Linked DNA regions of Homo sapiens. The protein of the gene in region 1 purifies or fractionates together with the protein of each later gene. This does not show direct contact. Each region holds a gene or a part of one and is shown in the gene's direction. Other genes may lie near its edges.

What was found. The genes of interacting proteins can lie anywhere in the genome.
Region 2: the proteins of ARHGAP42 (region 1) and MACO1 purify together in Homo sapiens (affinity purification with mass spectrometry; one large-scale study listed by BioGRID and IntAct). This does not show direct contact.

Annotation. Positions count from the first base shown.
Region 1 is NC_000011.10:100,991,075-100,996,215, forward strand, and holds the end of ARHGAP42 (rho GTPase-activating protein 42), read left to right. Parts: 3' UTR 1-2,867; downstream 2,868-5,141. UniProt on the Homo sapiens protein: May influence blood pressure by functioning as a GTPase-activating protein for RHOA in vascular smooth muscle.
Region 2 is NC_000001.11:25,485,525-25,491,011, forward strand, and holds part of MACO1 (macoilin), read left to right. Parts: intron 1-88; coding exon 89-271; intron 272-3,648; coding exon 3,649-3,769; intron 3,770-5,487. UniProt on the Homo sapiens protein: Plays a role in the regulation of neuronal activity.

The DNA of each region.
Region 1 (5,141 bases):
TGGTCCCTTTGCTGAAACAAGCTACAGAAGCACTGATTCAAGTTGTGCTTGTGCTTGAACTTTTAATCTTCTAGATTTGTGAGGATGGCTCTTTTTCCTTCATAATGGATTACAATGTAAGCAAGTCATGGCCATATACTGGAGACGGGCTAAAGCTGCTTTTCCCTTAAAGTAAGTTTCCTACAGATAAGGTATTTATGAGCACTGAGAAAGTCAGGACATGTACTCTAAATCACACAGAATGTTAATTCCACAGGAAGGCAATGCCAGACATTGAAAGAGGATCACATTCAACTTTTAATAGTAGTTCAATAACAAAACCTTAGCTTTTCAGGAACAATGTGAAGATACATTAGAATTGCCACATCCATATCTTCAAAACACGCAACCTCTGCACCCTAATAACTGCTTACGGTATAATCAGTATGATGATGAGATTGAGGGGGTCTAAATTTAAGTTCCTTATCTCCTGAGTTATGTGAAAATATCCCTCAGTACAAAACATTTGTGTGTTTCACAGATGACTCTCTTGTTTTGCCGTAATGCTACCAAGTTTATGGAAACTAGTCAACTGAAGGATTTTTCTGTTGTGTTATGTGTAAATGTCTGAACAGTAAAATCATCTGTGTATTCCTGTAACATTCACGAAGTATGAGGAAGTGGGTTTCTCCTTGTTTGATGTGAGTGGTTTTGCTTGTTGCATGGGTTCCCTGTGCTTTGTAACTTGCATGAACACAACCAGGTTTCTCAACAATGATTTGTCTGCTGACTCTTTTCAGAGATAGTGAAGGAAAAAAAATGTATTAAAACCCCAAATTATCTAGGTTTCCAAGTAGGAAAAATAAAGATACATATGACTTTTATTATTATTCGATGATAATTAGCTTTATATAATGTGGCATCCTTCATAAAAATTCACTATGTTGTGAGGCAAACAGATTTCTCACTATCATCCAGTGTACCCTGCTCACCTTCTCACTCCTAGCACCGTTCTTCTGGTCTGTGTTGAAAAGGGTATCATTCATGTGGTTTCAGTTTAGAAGAGTCCCTCAGAGCTTTGCCTCAAGCAATTTCAAATTGTAGTGATACCTTAAATCATGTATTCAGGATGCCTTCTTTAGCATTTAGAACCCCAACTAGACTTATACTTTGACTAAAGTCAGAGGCAGACCAATTTAGGGAACAGATTTTGTTCTTTGCTTTTATGATACATTTGTAACTCACAGCTGTTAGCATGACCTCACATCACTGCGTAGGACCCGGAAATCACATCTCCTGGTCAGGTCACGAAAAAGAACACAGGCTTGACTATTGTCCAGAAGTTACTTTCCCCTTGACTAAAGGTTTCCCCTTAGGGTACACATTGCTATTTAACTTTGCCTCCTACCCTTTTTTGTTACCTTCCAAAATCAAGACACTTTTAAGAAACAAAGATAGTTTTCTGAACATTCTGTGTCCTGCCTGTCTCCTGTTGATTCGCAGATGTAATATCGAGTATTCATCAACTGGTCTCAATTTCCTGAACACATTCACTGTATCCCTCATTGTCACCGTTATCCCCCTGCTTCAAAATGTGCCAGTTCCACTTGGTAATAACGTTGGGAAAATGCAGGTTTATGAATGATGTGGACTTTTAGAGGATCAAATCAATAAATTGGATTTTTTATTTTTTGAGGGCAGCTGCCCTCACTGTTTTAAATAAAGAATCTTACATAAGAATGTTGACAACATTCACAGTAAGCCATTGGCAGAAAATTGATCTGCATGTCCTAGACCAATGATTACAAGGTGTCTGTGGTTTAGGGGGCCCAGCCCATCATTCCTTTTCCCCTTGGCACTCATGAGAGAGATGCCAAGTTCAGTGTGGATTTTTCTTGGTGCTCTATGGAGAAATGGAGTCTGTGTGCTTACTGAAGAGTCCCAAAAACCAGAGACCATTTTCATTTACTGCCATCATAAATATTCTCCACCATTCAAGATGCCTGTGTACACGGCTATTTGGGAAACTTAAGTGTTGGAGGAGGCAGGGGCTGAAGGTGTCAAAACCTCCTCAGTAGGATAACCCCTTTCTCCCCTTTGGACCATCTGCCATCTTTCATGAGTGTTTCCCATGGTGTTTTTGCATCCAGAGTTGACAACAACTCAATTTTGCCTTGAATTTACTCAGTCTTATAAATTAAAAATGTGCATTTTATATAAAGATGCATTTTATATAAAAATGCACACCTTTAATCTCTATATGGCAGCATATACATATATATATATAAAATGCACACTTTTAATCTCTATATGGCAGCATTTTTGAGGCTTTATATCTGCCCGTGTACCCTCAACTGCCTCCTTTTTGCAGAGAACGATCCCCACAGGAACTGGTCTAAGAACACTGTCTGCACATGATTGATGCTTAAAATCCAATATACCACCACATATCAAAGGTTGGGATTTTCAGAGTCCTTCTTGATTTCTGAGCTGAAACCTTAACAAATAGGGAATTTGGCAGGGAAGACACCTGGGTTTTTAATTCAGAACCCTATTTATATACTGTTAAAATTTGAGGTACTGTAGTTTATATAAAAGTCGGATGTTAAGATATTATATTTCAGTACTAGGAGCTTCTTTGCAGTCATTAACATGACAAATTAAGTAATAAATATAAAAGTGATTGTCCATAAATTATCATTGAATTTTTTGTTTATTTTGTAGTGTTCTGTATTTATCTGCACTTTGTGTATATATACACACATACATATGCCAACATGTAAATAACCTCATGTTTATTCCTAATCTAAATTGCCACAATATTTTTAATGTATGGTTACACTGTGTTTTAAATTACTTTAAAAATAAACTTTGTAAGCAGATTTTAATTTAGTCTTTGTACTTGAAGACCCACTGTGTTGGAGGGCAATTGTCTTGGCTTCATGTAGAGAAAAAACAAAGTTTCTGGTACTGTGAGTGATCACTTTGGTATGGCTAAATCATAGCAGAATTTGGTGACCTTCTCCTCACAAATTGGTATTCTGCAAGCTTTGGAAAATGTTAATGTTGATAACCTATTAATAATGCAGGTATCCACCGAGGGGAGAGGGAAATGGGCCATATGCAAAATACTAAATATAACAAGCATACAGGCTTACCTGAAAATATATATGTTTATAAAAGTTTCCAAGTGTACTATGGAAGAAATATCAGCGTACAAATACCTCCTGTCCATTTTTATTAGTCTTATGAACCTCTTGGTCATGACTTGACTTCTAGGTAAAACTTTGCTTCGCTGCATCAAAAAAAAAGATAATCGTGTATTTCTTTTGCATTGCTCCATAGATTATTAGAGTGCAGCAAATCACCTTGCCAAAGCTAAGCCTCACAGGTTGACCATTGGACAACCTGGCTTGCTCACATAGGTTGTAGTTTTCATCGATATCAGAGGAAAAGAGATAAATTCATGACACAACACCTGTTCAGATATAAGGATTAATGTTAACTCCAGTATAGTTAAGCAGGAAAGGACTATTAGGTTAGATATTACAGATTATTCTAGATGAGCTACTGTTTAAGAATGTTGGTTAAGACTGTTGGCCTGGAATCCCCTATAACTGATATTTTAGAATTAAAAATGAATTAACTTCCAGTGGCCAAAGCCGGAATGATTTGAGCAACAAAATAATGCAGTATTGAATGATTGGCTTATAAAACAAAGTATAAAATGAATATCCATGAATCCACATGGATATCAATGACAATAAATTTCACTTGTGTAAAAAAATGAGGGAGAAGAGACAAATCTTTACAAAAATATTCCAAATCATAATTGGAGTTATAGTTACCCTTCCCTCTAGCAGGTAGAATTTAATCCTCTCCTGCTTAAAGGTGAGCTAGACTTAGTAACTCATTTCCAAAATTTAGAGTATAGAAAACCGTCATAACTTTATAGAAAAGAAACCTAGTAGCCACTGTCTTAACCAAGTGGTAAAACTTAATATCAGTGATATCATGTGGTTGACTTACACCCCATAATATGTGATGTGAAGAGCAATTCACCTCTGTGGTATTCTTTCCCCAAACCCATAATTCCAGTGTAACCATTAGAAAAACATCAGACAAGCCCAGACTGAGGACATTCTACAGAAAAGATCTCAGCCCAGTACTCCTCAAGACTGTTGAGCTCATGAAAAATAGGTAAATACTGAGCAAATGTCACAGATCAGAGGAGACTTAGGAGACAGGGCAACTAAATGTAATGTGGAACCCTGGACTGGATCCTGGAACAGAAAGGAGAAAATAATAGCGGGCGTGGTGCCTCGCGCCTGTAATCCCAGCACTTTGGGAGGCCGAGGCGGGTGGATCACCTGAGGTCAGGAGTTCAAGACCAGCCTGGCCAACATGGTGAAACCCCGTCTCTACTAAAAATACAAAATTAGCCGGGCGTGGTGGTGCATGCCTGTAACCCAGTTACTCAGGAGGCTGAGGCAGGAGAATCTCTTGAACCATGGAGGCAGAGGTTGCAGTGAGCCGAGATTGTGCCATTGCACTCCAGCCTGGGCAAAAACGAGTGAAATTCCATCTCAAAATAAATAAATGAATAAATAAATAAATAAATAAATAAATAAAAGATAAGCTGGTGGTGTCCAAATAAGGTCTAAACTTTAGTTAATAGTTTAAAAAACAAGGTAACAAAAACTACTCAAAAAATAGTACATGAGCTGGGGATACTTATATCATTTTGGGAATTTAAGTGACTTTTTCAAGAATTAAACATTTTCACTTGTTCCCCATTAAATTTTGATCTGTGTGTGCAAGATACATCTCCTATTCATCAGTCAATCTCAGGCTTTAGAACAGAGTTGGGCATACATGAATACAGTAGAGTAAGCCCCTTTCATTAAATGAACAAATTCATTAGCAAAGGAACAAACATTGTAAACCCTTTAATAATTTAAAGAATACGGTTGTGGGCTTGTGTTTTTATGTCTGTCAATTCTCCCAGGAACAGTGAAATCATTCTTCAACATCCATGAATATATGAATCTACTCTGGAGCCATTTATATGTTAATGGTGTAAACAAACCTTTACACACATGAACAGGTCTTAAGGGCAGAGGTTAAACAGATTTTCTTCTGTCATTACCAGACCTAGCAAC
Region 2 (5,487 bases), on another chromosome or scaffold:
GCCTTAAGGTGATAAAGAGATGTTTCTCAAGGGTTTATAGTGGGCATTTGTAATTTTAAGACTTTATATGACAATCATTTCCATATAGGTTACATAATGCTGTGCAAATGAAGCAAAAAGACAAGCAGAATATCAGCCAGTTGGAGAAAAAGCTAAAAGCTGAGCAGGAAGCCCGAAGTTTTGTAGAGAAACAGTTAATGGAAGAGAAAAAGAGGAAGAAGTTAGAAGAAGCCACTGCTGCCCGGGCTGTTGCGTTTGCTGCTGCATCTAGGTATGTCCATGTCACCTGAGTGTTTAATCCAAGGTTGGCTTTCCTTTACCAACAAAGACATGGGAATTTGGTGCCTTGGGCAGGATTGGACGTACAGCAATCATGCACGGATGGATTGCTTTTAAGTACTGTTTTATTAACTGGTTTAAACTCCATGTGTGCAAGCTTGCACTATCTTATAACAGCTTTATCCCTCAGTGACCTCATCTATAAAGTGGGATGAGGGAATCACCATGTTTCCCATACCTGGGAGGCAAAGTACTGCTCATAAAAAGGTTTCCAGTCACTTTTTGTCAGACTGATGATTACTAAATGCATTGAGAGATTCTATCTGGAAGTTCGTTCCCTTTAGAGAGCTATCATTACTCTCCACTCTTAGGTATATGTGTTTCTGAAGTTTTTATCTTAAAATGGAAGAAAGATAAAATCTTGGTTGCCCAAGCACTGTGTACTGGCTGCTCAAATGGATATCAGCAAACTGTCAAATGAAATGGAAAAAAAAAGTGAAACATAAGTCTCTACTAGATGGAATTACATTTATGGCATAATGAAAATTGGGGACTACCTCCTATACCACTGGAAAGTACCCCTGTGTGCAAGTATTCCAAAAACTATTAGATAGTTAAGAGCTTTTTTTTTCTTTTTGCTTCTACTTCACTTATCACTTTTTCCTTTGTTTTCTTGACTAGTGAAGTCCCTCTGCATGTGGGAATCAGTTAGGTGTTTGCAGATATAGAGCGAGGGTAAATTATTATTTATTTCACTTTTAAATTCCATCCTAATTTGTATCTACGTGGTATAATTCAACTGTAATTTTTCCTTGAATTTTGCTTTGTCGTAATTAAAGTTAAGTAATTTAACTTTTGGCATGTTGATAGCCTTCTTTGTGGGTTCTGGCATTTGCAGAATAATTGGTGAATCATTTCACCTTTTAGGAAATAACAGCAAGTGAGAACTCTCTCCTGTGTGATCCTGCCTCCCCCCAGCAGATGGCTGAGCTGGCTTGGCCCATCAGCATCTATACAGACTTACAAGGCCCTTGACTAGCCTGCCTACAATGTGGGATTGTTTGTTTGTTTGAAGATGTATTTGCATTCTGAAGCACTTAAACTTGCAGGAGATGTTCTTGAACAGTCATCTAGTGATGACTGCTCTCCTCTCTCCTCAATTCATACAGCACCTGCCCTTTCTGAAAAATTCCACTCAGGAGGACATAGCAGTTCCTTAACGATATTGCTTAGTGTCTCCCATGCCTGAGAATCAGTAAGTTGATTTCAGTGTCTACCCCAAATCCCTTTTGCTTCCAGTTAAGCTTATTTATCTTATCCCTGGATAGTCCTTGTTTTTCATAACTTATTCTTTTTTTCCTTCTTTTTGAGACGGAGTCTAACTCTGTCACCCAGGCTGGAGTGCAGTGGCGCGATCTCAGCTCACTGCAGCCTTTGCCACCCAGGTTCAAGCGATTCTCCTGCCTCAGCCTCCCAAGTAGCTGGGATTACAGGCTCCTGCCACCGTGCCCAGCAACTTTTTGTATTTTTAGTAGAGACGAGGTTTCACCATCTTGGCAGGCTGGTCTCGAACTCCTGACCTCAGGTGATCTGCCCACCTTGACCTCCCAAAGTGCTGGGATTACAGGCGTGAGCCACCACACCAGGCCTGCCATAATTTATTCAGTAAATCTCAGGGCATAAATCTCTGACTGGACCTTCCGTTTTGGTAGGCAGAGAACACCTACTTTCTTCATTGGGCTGTTTCTGGAACCTAGACAGTACCAGCTTTGGACTGGCCATTGCCATCATCTCTTTTAGCTCAACCTTATGATAGCCCTGAGAAGCAGCTCAACAGTGTGCCCTTATTTTTCTGTTTACTCCAGTCTTGTGGCAACTTTATGACAAGAAAGACAAAAGTCCCAATGCGTAGCCCCTCAAAAGTGGGGGGAAAATTTTTTTCTAGTTCACCGCCCCCTGCTGGACATAGTACATGTTCAGTTCTATCTGGCTTTGTGTGTATTGTCTCAAGTCTCATGGCCTGGTGGGAAGTTTGCTGGATTGGGAAGCCAGAAAATCTCAGTTCTTATCCCTATTCTAAGACCTAAAAGCTAGGTAACCTTGAACTAGTATTTTATCTATGTAGCCTCAGTTTTCTTATCTGGAAAATGGGATAAATATACCCTAGGTTGTTATAAGGATTGAAGAAGGTAGTATGGGTAAAGTACCTTAGTGTCTGGCTCATCTAGACACTCAGTAATAATTATTGTATATATGTATGTATTTTGAGACAGGATATCATTCTGTCACCCAGACTGGAGTGCAATGGTGCAGTCATAGCTTACTATAACCTGAAACTCCTGGGCTCAAGTTGTCCTCTTGCCTCAGCCTCCTGAGTAGCTGGGACTACAGGCATGTGCTACTATGCCCAGCTATTTTTTAAATTTTTTGTAGAGACAGGGTCTCTCTGTGTTGCCCAGGCTGATCTCAGACTCTGGGCTCAAGCAGTCCTCCCACCTTGGCCTTGGGAGTGCTGGGATTACGGGCATGAGCCACCATGCCCAGCCCAGTTATTTTAGAGTATTATTGAAATTATCAAAGGACACAGAGAACTGAGCAGACTGAGCCAAAAGCTAAAACCTGACAGACCCTGGAGTATAAAAGAAATTAAAAGAAATATAAATCCCACAATACAAGTAAACCTATAGTCTTTTTTTTTTCTTTTTTTTGAGACAGAGTCTCACTTTGTCACCCAGGCTAACGTGCTGTGACACCATCTCAGCTCAGTGCAGCCTCTGCCTCCCAGGTACAAGCAATTCTCCTGCCTCGGCCTCCCGAGTAGCTGGGATTACAGATGTGTGCCACTACACCCAGCTAATTTTTGTAGAGAGAGGGTTTCACTGTGTTGGCCAGGCTGGTCTTGAACTCCTGACCTCAAGTGATCCACCTGCCTTGGCCTCCCAAATTGCTGTGATTACAGGCGTGAGCCACTGCACTCGGCCAACCTATAGTCTTTTTTAAAATTTTATTTATTTATTTATTTATTTGTTTTTGAGATGGAGTCTCACTCGGACGCCCAAGCTGGAGTGCAGTGGCACGATCTGGACTCGCTGCAACCTCCACCTCCTGGGTTCAAGCAATTCTTCTGCCTCAGCCTCCCCAGTAGCTGGGACTACAGGCATGTACCACCATGCCCAGCCAATTTTTTTTGTATTTTTAGTAGAGACGGGGTTTCACCATGCTGGTCAGGTTGGTCTCGAACCCCTGACCTCAAATAATCTGCCTGCCTCGGCCTCCCAAAGTGCTGGGATTACAGGCCTGAGTCACAGGGCCCAGCCCCAACCTATAGTCTTTTAAATCACTTTATTTCCTTCTCTTCTTTTTCAAAAGGGGAGAATGCACCGAAACCTTACGGAATCGGATCAGAGAACTAGAAGCAGAGGGCAAGAAGCTCACGATGGACATGAAGGTGAAAGAAGACCAAATCAGAGAACTAGAACTAAAAGTCCAGGTAAGGGGGGAACAAAAGACTTCCCTTGTATTTGAATTCCACTTTTATGCTAAACTTGTGCTCTGTGTTGCAGTGTAGAGATGATGCCTTTTAATATAGATCAAATCTCATTGCATCTGAAAAATCTCTATGTGACAAAAAGATTTGAAGTTCTAATCTTGTCCAGCTCATTTCAAGTCATATTAATGTAGCCAGATTCTAATACAAACCAGAAATGTTGACAATCCCTTGGTATGTTTTATACCAGGATTTAACTTGCTGTAGATTCATTTAACTTTTTCAGGTTATAGGCCAGATTAGTGTCCTTTGAAACTTACACACCTCCTTTTAGCCCCAACCCTCTTTCTATTGCCAGGGGACTGACCCTCCTGCATGGCTCTGAGCCTTGCAGATTGTTGTTCATAGCAGTGAATGATAGGAAAGGTGCTAGTGCTATGGACGTAGCCTGTTTTATGGGCTGTGTATACTTTAGCCAAATATTTGTCATTTAAACTAATGTCATATATTGTAAAGTTACAGTAATTTGAGCCAGGTGGGACAAGTGAAAAATTACTGTCAAGTCAGTGGACTAGAATGATGGCCTGGAGTACAGTACCGAAAAAAATACGAAAAAAAGTAAAGGTGGCATCAGAGATAGATGGGAAAGGTAACGATTAGTCAGTAAAAGGCTTTGGAATAGCTAAATAACTGGAGAAAAAAAATTAGAAACTCATCTCATGCCACATATAAAGAAATTCCAGATGAAGAGTTGAAGGCAGAAAAAACAAAGAATAAATGAGTTTTTAAAAACTAGGTGGAAATATACTTGACCTTGAAACAAGGGAAAGATTTTCTAAACATACAAGCAATGGGAAAAAATCACAAAGCAAAAATCATAATAATAAATGAAAAAATTGATTGGGGAAGGTATGAATATTGCAACAAATATTATAAATAAGGAATTAATATTCTCAACATATCCGTAGCTCATAAAAGTTGCTAAGGAAAGCTCATATATATAGCAAAATAGGCTGAGGATGTGAACAAATAATTCAGAGGAAATACAGGTGACTGATAAGATCATAAAAATATAAACTCACCAATCATCAAAGACATGCAGATTAAAAGTAGATATCATTTTTCTCCTATGAAATTAGCAGATGATTTTTAAATGAGAATATCAATCATGGTGAGGATGCAACAAAATAGGCCTCATACATTGCTGGTAGAAATGTAACTTTCTGGAAAAGGTCTTGCACTTTTTAAGTATTTACCTTTTTTAGGAATCCAGCCTAAGGTAAACAATTTTAAAATCTCACCAATGAGTGATGTACAGAGATGTTCATCGTAGTGGTATAAAAATGCAAAAAAATTGAAAACAGTCTTAACAATGGGAGAGTCATTTAAATTTTGGTATGTAAACATTCAGGAATATTGTACAGCCAATAAAAATTTTATTTTCAAACAATAGTTAAAATCATTTAGTTTTTAAAAGACTATGTACAAAACTGTACATTTAATATTTCACTTCTGCTAAAAGATACACATATGCATAAAAGATTAAAAGAAATATTAAATTTTTTAGTGTTGGTATTATGAGTAATTTTCATTTTCTTCTTTGAATTTTTCTATATTCCTAAATTCTCTGTAATAAGTTTGGATTTTTCTGTTAAAAAGAAAAATTCAAATATCTGTATATATTAATTGTTTACATTAAAGTGGGCTTATTCTGCAGTATG